Linked DNA regions of Homo sapiens: regions 1 and 2 are each linked to region 3. Evidence: fine-mapped expression QTL. A gene starts in region 3. Each other region holds a variant in brackets. All regions are shown on one strand. Distances are from middle to middle. Region 1 has its middle 51 kb from the start of OSBPL3. Region 2 overlaps OSBPL3 (oxysterol binding protein like 3). Region 3 holds the start of OSBPL3 (oxysterol binding protein like 3).

Region 1 (2,761 bases), 51 kb before region 3:
GATATAAGATGTGTGGCCTTAAGCAGTTGACTTAGCCTCCATGTGTCTAGTTTCCTTCCTTGGAAAATGAGAGAATACCCACATCACAGGGCCGTTGTAAGGACTACATTAATTGAGTTCATCAACATAAAGCACTTGGAGCACTGCCTGACACATAGTAAGCACTAGATAAGTATTTGATGTTAATAGCTGTAGATATAGGAATACATAGGTACAGAGAATAGCAAGAGATATATGAAGGGAGGGAGGGATGGTGAAGAGATGGACAAATGCCTCCTAGATGTGGGAGATGAAGGTAGGAGCATGGTTCCCAGAATGTCTTTGCAAAAGCAGTCACACATTTGAGTAAATCTAGCCACACTCTCCCCCTTCTCCTCTGTCCAGTGTCCAGGATAACAGGTGCTCTTTGTTTTGTGGGACAGACCACAATGACTAATCAACACCAGACCACTGCCCCACATGAGGCAGACAGCAGGCAAAGGGCTGATGTGACAGAACTGTGCTATGGCACCCCCTGCAGATGGCCCTGTAAGGCCCATTGGGCAGAACAGTCAGAAAGGGCTCCAGCCACCTTGGTTCAGGGCACTCACAGGGACTGCCAAACAGCTTCATACTTCTCAACTCTCTCACCTTTCTTGTTCCGTAAACATTTTGTCATATGCCCACTTTCTCCATTCTGTTGTAACATTTATCCACACATGATAAATGTAGGAGTCCATGAATATTACCTAAATCAACACTGACCTGGGAATCAGACCTGTGCTCCAGTGTGGACTACGAAACTAATTGTTAAGCCTTGAGCTGGTTATTTCATCTCTCTGCCTTCAGTATTTGCATTTGTAACCACACAGGGCAATGCCTTTTTGCCTGCAGATTACGCCTGAAGCTCCGTGCAGCCCTCAAGTGCATGGGTCTTTGACTTAGCACCTGCAACCTGGGCAGTGTCTTCTCTCAAGTTTCAGTGTGAGTCATTCCTCGGCTTCCTTGAGTTTAGGCGCTCACTCCTCTATGCTCCCAGTGCACC[G/A]GCTATGTACCTGAAAGTGCATTACCCTCATAGATTTGTTCACATGTCTATCTCCCCAAAAGGCTGTAATACCTTTAATGCAGGAATTACATTTGGTAAGTTTCAGAGAACAGAATCCACTCTAACCGGTTTAAGCAGGAATGGATATTAAATGGCTTGTAGCGTCATTGGGAGGGGAAAAGAAAGACTCAAGATGAAGCTTTCAGGAACCACTCACGGAGCTACACTGCTGAACTGGGCCACTAAAGGAGAGCTGCTAAATCTTTTGGTATCAGGAAGTCTCCAGCTTGACAATTGCCCCACCATTAACACAATGAGGAATTAAATTCTTTCTACACATATCTCACAGTCAAATTCTCAAAAGGAGCTAGAGTCTGTTTAGCTCCCTCGTCTCTGTATGGATGGTATTTCTTGCACCAGGCCACTCCCTAAATTTCGGACCAATTTAGAGATTGTTTGCTCTTGGGTTAGATGCTAAGTGTGTCCAAAGAGCTTCAGCCAAAGAAAGTCAATTTCATCTGGTACAAACATGGTGAAGGGTCATTGGGGATGAGAGTGTGGCCAACACATTTCCTCCTTCCTACTGTTAAGGAGATTAATTTTCCCATTATCAATACAGTTCTTCAGTGGCGATTGGTGACAAGTCGATCATCTGGTTGGATATCAATTAAATTAAAATCTGCTCTTAACCCTAATAGTCTCTTCACCTAATGCCCGACACAGAACCACAACCGCTTTAACGAAACAGGCCAAGATCGTAGAATCTTAGGACTAGGAAGAAATTCAGGGGTCATAAAATCCAGTGCTTACCGAATACCACTTTGTAACACATAGAGAAAAATAGGACAATGTAATGAGTTTTATTTTATCTAAATGAATTCAACGTAAAGACCTGGCTTTATTCTGGGATTTTTTTTTTTGTTGTTGTTCTCCTATTTCTTCAGCGATATATAGCTTTTGTTTGTTTAGGCTTTTCTTGGCAAAATAAAAATTGGGTTTTCCTTTGGGAATCCTCTCTTCAAGTTTCCTGTTGCTTTTTGATCTTATTCTGTTCATGCCCTCAAAGGCCTATACCACAGCTTTACTGTGACCTCGTGTCACTGTTTCTTTGTCAATTTCATCCTTTATTCCCCATCACCTATCAGGACATGGACTCCAGCCTCTCAGCACACCGAATTTGTGCCTGAGTGTGTGGTAAGACCTCAAGATAAAGGTTTGTCTTCTGTGATTCTTTGTCACTGCTTCGTCCCATGTCACATCTCACAGGGAATTATTTTGACACTCTCCCCTTATAAATGAGGTCCAACTCATTTGTGAGAACTTGAGCTGTAATTTGCAGTTTGTCGTGGCATGTTTTATCTACTTTGACTCGGGTTGTTTCTCTCCGTCTTATCATTTAACAAGTACATAGTCTATTTTTACTTCTCCTAACTCTAGCTTTTATTCCACCTATCCTTCGCCTGATATATTTTCCAGGACTTCTTTTTCTGGAATGATTTCTCGTTATCTCACTTATCTTAAATCCAAACTTAGTCTTTAGGTACAAGAATCTGTGACTTTTTCTATCCATTCACAAACATTTACTTATTGATGATTTCTTTTTAGGTTGCTTCCTTGGGCCGGTGAGCTCTTGGATCCATTTCTTGCCCTCCCCCAGTTCTGCCTTATGTCACAGGGCTGTGTGACCCCATGCAGGCTGGGCTTTTCAGGGCCCTGAGTCCCTTGGTTTCCAGCTGG
Region 2 (2,761 bases), 69 kb after region 3:
AGTGTCACGGTCACTTTGTTAGAGGAGCATGTGGGATGGGATGTACATTGGTATGGTCGTCTTTGAAAAATACATCTTCCACACCCAGTAATGATGAATCAGAACTGGCATCAGCTTGCTCTAAGCCATAAATAAGCCTTGACGTCTGCCTTGGGTCTGGAGACTGGGTGCTTCTCATTTTCAGGAGCTATGATTGTCATTGTTCTGTGCTGGGGCTGTTCTGTCTTTGGGTGTGAGGATGGGAGAGTTGCCTTTTGCATAGTACTCAGAGTTCTTTGATGAAAAACGGTAAGCACAGAATGGTTTATTAGAATGCCCTTAATGTGCTAAACTCCCTAAATCAATGGATGTCTGCAGTGAATCTGCAACATAGGGGAATATGCAAGGAAGATCAAGGCCCTGGTTGCTGAATTTGATTTTTAAAATTAATTTGATGGAATCCAGCTTAGAGTTTTAACACATTACTTACATCCCACATTTTGACTTACATTTTCTGATTTGTAATTCCTATGAACTATTATTTTTTGGTAACATTCTTACTAGATGTAAACTCCTAAAGAATTAGGATCTATCTTTCCACAAATTTTTAAAGTTTGATAAATGGATACTTGAGAATATTTTCTTACTTCGGAGATAAAATTTAGTAAAAACCTTCTAGTAGCTAGTGTGAAGGGGAGGGAACACAGGTTATCAATTTGATAAACAAATAACCTACTACCTACCGTGTCAATTAAGAAAAAACAAAAACAAGGATGAGACAGTCTTCAAATTGCTTTTGATCTATACACTCTACTGGAGAGAATAAAATAACCATGTCATTGTTAGCATTGGGAACAGAGGTGCTTTTAGGTTTTTCTTGCCTTTTAGCTCTAGTCTACCAGTAACCACCCCACCTTTTTAAAACCTGTTTACTCTGCCTTTTCCTTTTATGTCTCTCTTTTTTCCAGTTTGCACTAGTTTAAAAGTGTCTCAGGTTAAGTTTTTTGCAGTAATCTTTCTTTCCCCTAGAAGTGAGTAAAACTTCCTGTATCCCTTTTTCTCCCCACCTATGTTCCCTAAATTAGTGATTCTCTTACAAGGAATTATTATCGCCCCTGCAGTTTTGGAAGGATACCTCCAAAATATATCTTGGGGACTTCGATTTATAGAATTTGGTTTAAGCTTAGATTCTGAGTCCCAGGGTTATTTTTAGTTAAGTGGACAAACAAACTTGAAGTGTGTACATCTGATACATGACCCACTAGGGTATTTTGTTTCTTGTTATTTGAGAGTGTTCAGTTAGCACTTATAGAGCATTACCCATTGTTAGCTGGCTGTTTACATTTCTGAAAAGATGATAAGTTGATTTTTGTAGGAAATAGGGAAGTTTTAAAACTTCATGCTCACATTTCATAGTAACTCAATTGATAGTCTTTTTAGATAAGTAATGAAATGCTGCCTGTGGTTGCCAATTGTTAAAACTCTACCAAGCTTCCGCAAGCAGTTGTCGGTTAAGGGAGCGTAATAAC[A/G]CCCACTGATAAAATTCAAACCACCAGATGTTATTTTAAGTTCTTGGGTGGTGCTATCTTTTCTTACCCTTTAAACTGCTAAGTCACATCCTGCTTTGCATTTCAATTTGGTATAAATTGGATGCAGCAGACATAGGTCTGGCATAAGATGCTCAAACAAAATTAAATACCAAAATTAAAGAAGGCAGTTCTGTGGAGTAAATCTGTCATTTCTGGATGCAAGATTATGTTAGAGCAGTGGCTCAACCCTTGCTGTGTATCCAAATCACCTGGGAGTGTCTCAGGATGCCCTTGCCCTGGCCTCATCCCCAGTGTCTGGACCAGTTAGTATGAAATGGCACCAGGCTTTGGGATTTTGTAGAAGCTTCCCAGGGTGATCCTGTCACGCAGCCGGGGTTGAGAAATGTTGCAGGAGGTGCCCCTCCCGACCCAGCTCACAGCTTTGTCCTCCATGCTTCTCTCTACCTAGTCAAGCCCTATCCACATCTTCACGGCTCCCTGCAGGCCACCTCTTCCTAAGCTTTTTCTCACAACTCCAGCCCCACTGAGCTCTTCCCTTGTGACTGCCCATAGCACCTACCAGATGGCCCACCCTGGGGTGTGTTCTGGCTTGTTTCATTTGTGACATCTTATCTCCTTGATCACAGTGGTTTCCTCCTTGGATTAAGTTTCTGTCACTTAGTTTCCATCACTGAAGGGTTAGCACAGCAGTGGACACATAGTAGTTACTTTATAGGATATATACTGAATTGAGTTTTCATCAGTGTGCCTGTCTTCTTTTTGCCACCTGTCTTTCCACTGTAGCTTCCTTTATTAGCCCACATTTATTCATAAGTATTTCTTCCTTGTAAGGTGTTGAAGGACAAGTAAGAGTAGCTAAGCTGCAGAAGGAGGAGGAAAACTCAGCCCATTTCTGATTTCTCCATTCAGGAATGGAGGAGTTGTCATAGGACCTATGGACTCATCTCTCTCCATTCAGAACATTGATTCATCCTGATCTGTAGTGACTCTTGGGACCACGTGGGTGATAAATGCAACATGAAAGGGGCTGGCTTGCTGGAGAAGGTGAAAATGATTTGAAGATTGGATGTCTACCATCTATCCTATTTTGAGCATTTGGGATTATTTCAGGCCAGGGTAATACACACCTTCAAATTGAAAATAGTAGCTTTCGGCCAGCCACGGTGGCTCACACCTGTAATCTCAGCACTTTGGGAGGCCGAGGCAGGTGGATCACCTGAGGTCAGAAGTTC
Region 3 (2,761 bases):
AGAAACCTTGAATTGGGGTCAGTTTGGAGACTGAAAATGCGTCGAGCGCTGCAGGTGGTGGTTGGCAGGGGGATTTAACACTGTGGAGCCCTTACTCCGTCCCAGGCGCTGAGCCCAGCGAGCCACGCGCGGTGCCCAGCTCGGTGAGGTCGGTTAGTTGGGTCTTCAGGGAGGCTAAATACCCTGTATTTGCTATTCCCTTCGCCTGGAACGCTCTGTGCGAGACTGGGTGTGGCAGCTCCTTTCCCAGGCTCAGGAATCTGGGTAAAAGCCACCCTCGCCTAGAGGCCCTCAGGGTGAGCGCCCCATCACGCGCTAAACCACTTTCGAAAGTGGACTTGGCCCTCCTCTCAGTACTAACAGTCTGTCAGCCTTTTATTTTTTGCATAGATATGTATTTTCTCTTCTTTATTGTCTGTCTTTCCACAAAAAATGCAAGCCCCGTGAGTACTGGAGCCTGGTGCGCCTTTCTCACAGTTGCAAGCTCGCAACTGCTCCTGGCATATACTAGGTGCTCACTAAATGCTCATGCCCTTCCCACCCGCCACCTGCGGCACTCGACACATTTGCAGTCTGCAAACTGACCCCAAACCATCAGCTGCTTGCATTCGTCCTAGGATCAAAGAAGGCCATTGGGCTAGTGGGAAGTCAAGTCGGGTGGACTTTTCCGTCTTTCAGGGAGATTTAATAGTAACGACGGTGCTCTCCCCACCTCCTACCCCCTTGCACATAAACTGCACAGAACAAAATCACCCCGGCACGAATCTGCACGACTGCCTCTGGAGGTAGGGTCACGGTCTCCGAGCCCCGGGTCTCACACTGATGCTGTCCTTTGTCATCTCGTGCCTAGAGTGCTGCCTCCCTATGTATTTCCTCTGTTCTCGACTCCTCTGCCACAGTCTGACTTTCTCGGGAGGTCGAGTTCTCCTAGCCTGTGCGACCGCAAGGGTCCCCTGGAGCCTTCTCCGTAAACCTGCCCCTCCCGCGCTGCCCTCACTTTTTCCTCCTTCCCTGGCCCGGAAAAGCCACTAGAGGAACATTTACCGAACGCCTACCGCGCGCAGGCACCGAGCTGGGCCACCGGGAGCCCCACCCAGTGCCTCGCCGCAGGACTCGCCTCCCTCCGCCCTCCCAACCCATCCGGAATCCGGGGTCCCTAGTTCCCCCGCCGCGTCATGGAATCCGCTGGCTTCTTCCGAGGACATCGCCCCACCTCCTTCCCGAAAGGCGACTTCTGATTGGTGAGATTGTGCATCACTCTGCCGCCCTCCCGCCCCCTCGGGGCCCCGCCCCTGGGCCTCTCAGGCCCCTCCCCTGCGCTCCCGCCCTTGCGCGGCTCCTCGGGCTAATCGCCGGGCGGCGCGCGCCGAGAAGTTCTGGGCAAAGTACTCAGAACTGGCCGCGTGCTGGTGGCGCCCGCCAGCCGGCCCGGGAGAGGGGACTTGAGCGCTTCGCGGCCGGTGCGCAGCGCGGCTCCGGCCCCGCAGTCTGTCTGCAAGTGGCCATCCCCGCCCCCGACTCCTGCGGCCGGTGCGGGAGCTGTCAGCTGCACGTTGCGGGGGTACCGGAGAAGCCGGGGTTGCCTTCTCCCGGTTCTGTGCGCTAACCCCGGAGCCCGGCCCCGGGGAACTAGGGAGCGTCTCCGGCTGCACAGCGCTCAGGTGAGTGGCGGGGCGCCCGCCTAAATGGGGCCTGGGTGTCGGGGGGCCTGGCGGCGGCGCGGGCTCGGAAGGGCTGCTGTTTGCGGGGCGCCGCGGTTCTCTGCCGGACCGGGGTCTGTCCGAGTCGCCCGGGGAGGCTCCGGCCCTGGGGCAGACCCAAGCCTGGGAGCTTGGGTGCCGGCTGCAGCTCCCGGGGAAGGAGGACCCGGGTCTCACCCACCCCAGGACACCTTCCCTCGAGGGACGGCTCAGAGGATTGACCGCCAGGAGGAGCCGAGCGCAGGGGCCGCGGCGCAGGTGCGGGAGGACGCGGCGCGCGGAGCTGTCCTGGGCAGCGGGGAGGCGCTACGCCGGGGCTAGAGGCTCAGGAAGCCTGGTAAATTGGGGCGAGCGCGAAGCTTTACCACATCCGCGGGATGGGGCGCGCCGGAGAGACTGAGACAACGCTCGCGGGGCAGGCGCTCCGCTCGCCCGCCTTCCCAACCCCGGCTTGCTCAGCTCCCCGGTGCTGGGCTGGAGGCCCAGGGCACATTCCTTTCTTGTCTGAATTTACATATTCATCAGCTTTCTGGCCCCTTCTGGAATTTTTTTTTTTTGTTAGTTTCCAATTACTACTGTTCAGATCACCTTCAGGCTCACCCTAACTCTCGTCTCAGTGTCTCTCACATTGGTCCTTTCCTGGAGGCCCTGCAGCGTCTTAGTTCAGGGTCTTAGGGACTTATGCACTCTGTCTGAACGTTGTCTACAGTTGGGTTTTCCTACCTCTGTCTCTGTTTATTCCGTGGTCAGGTAAATTCTTTAAGTACTGTCATCATAAGCCAGAAACTCCCAGGCAGCCTCTTAGCGCTGCCCAGCTTCCCGGGGAGCGTTTGTGGCCTCTGGAGTCGCTGATGGGCACTGTCGCAGGTCGTCCAGATACTTCTTAAGCAGGGGCGCGCCGCCCTTCCTTCGGCAACGCAACTTGCTTGCTGCCTTCTGCACACTTGTGCTTGTCCTTCTCCGCCTCACAAGCCACCAGTCTCCTCAGTCGGGACTCTTGGAGCTGAGGGGACTGTGAAGTTGTCGGTTTCCATGTGTCTGCGTACTGCGCAGAGGTGCTT

The links. PIP is the estimated chance that this variant, and not a neighbour inherited with it, causes the effect.
Region 1: its variant is fine-mapped to the expression of OSBPL3 in whole blood (INTERVAL, PIP above 0.99).
Region 2: its variant is fine-mapped to the expression of OSBPL3 in monocytes after LPS (Quach 2016, PIP 0.95). The same link has a PIP of 0.9 or more in monocytes and monocytes after Pam3CSK4.

The regions. Positions count from the first base shown.
Region 1 is chr7:25,029,361-25,032,121 of GRCh38, reverse strand. No RefSeq gene overlaps it. Among named protein-coding and RNA genes, the nearest start is that of OSBPL3, 51 kb to the right of the region's middle. The variant G/A (reference allele first, on the strand shown) is at 1,025.
Region 2 is chr7:24,910,026-24,912,786 of GRCh38, reverse strand. The region is part of intron 1 of OSBPL3 (oxysterol binding protein like 3); the gene reads left to right. Among named protein-coding and RNA genes, the nearest start is that of OSBPL3, 69 kb to the left of the region's middle. RefSeq lists an enhancer at 1,958-2,107. The variant A/G (reference allele first, on the strand shown) is at 1,509.
Region 3 is chr7:24,978,786-24,981,546 of GRCh38, reverse strand. It overlaps OSBPL3 (oxysterol binding protein like 3), which reads left to right and starts at 1,369. Exons shown (of 23, transcript NM_015550.4): 1 at 1,369-1,661. RefSeq lists an enhancer at 1-69 and silencers at 1,210-1,719, 1,770-1,979.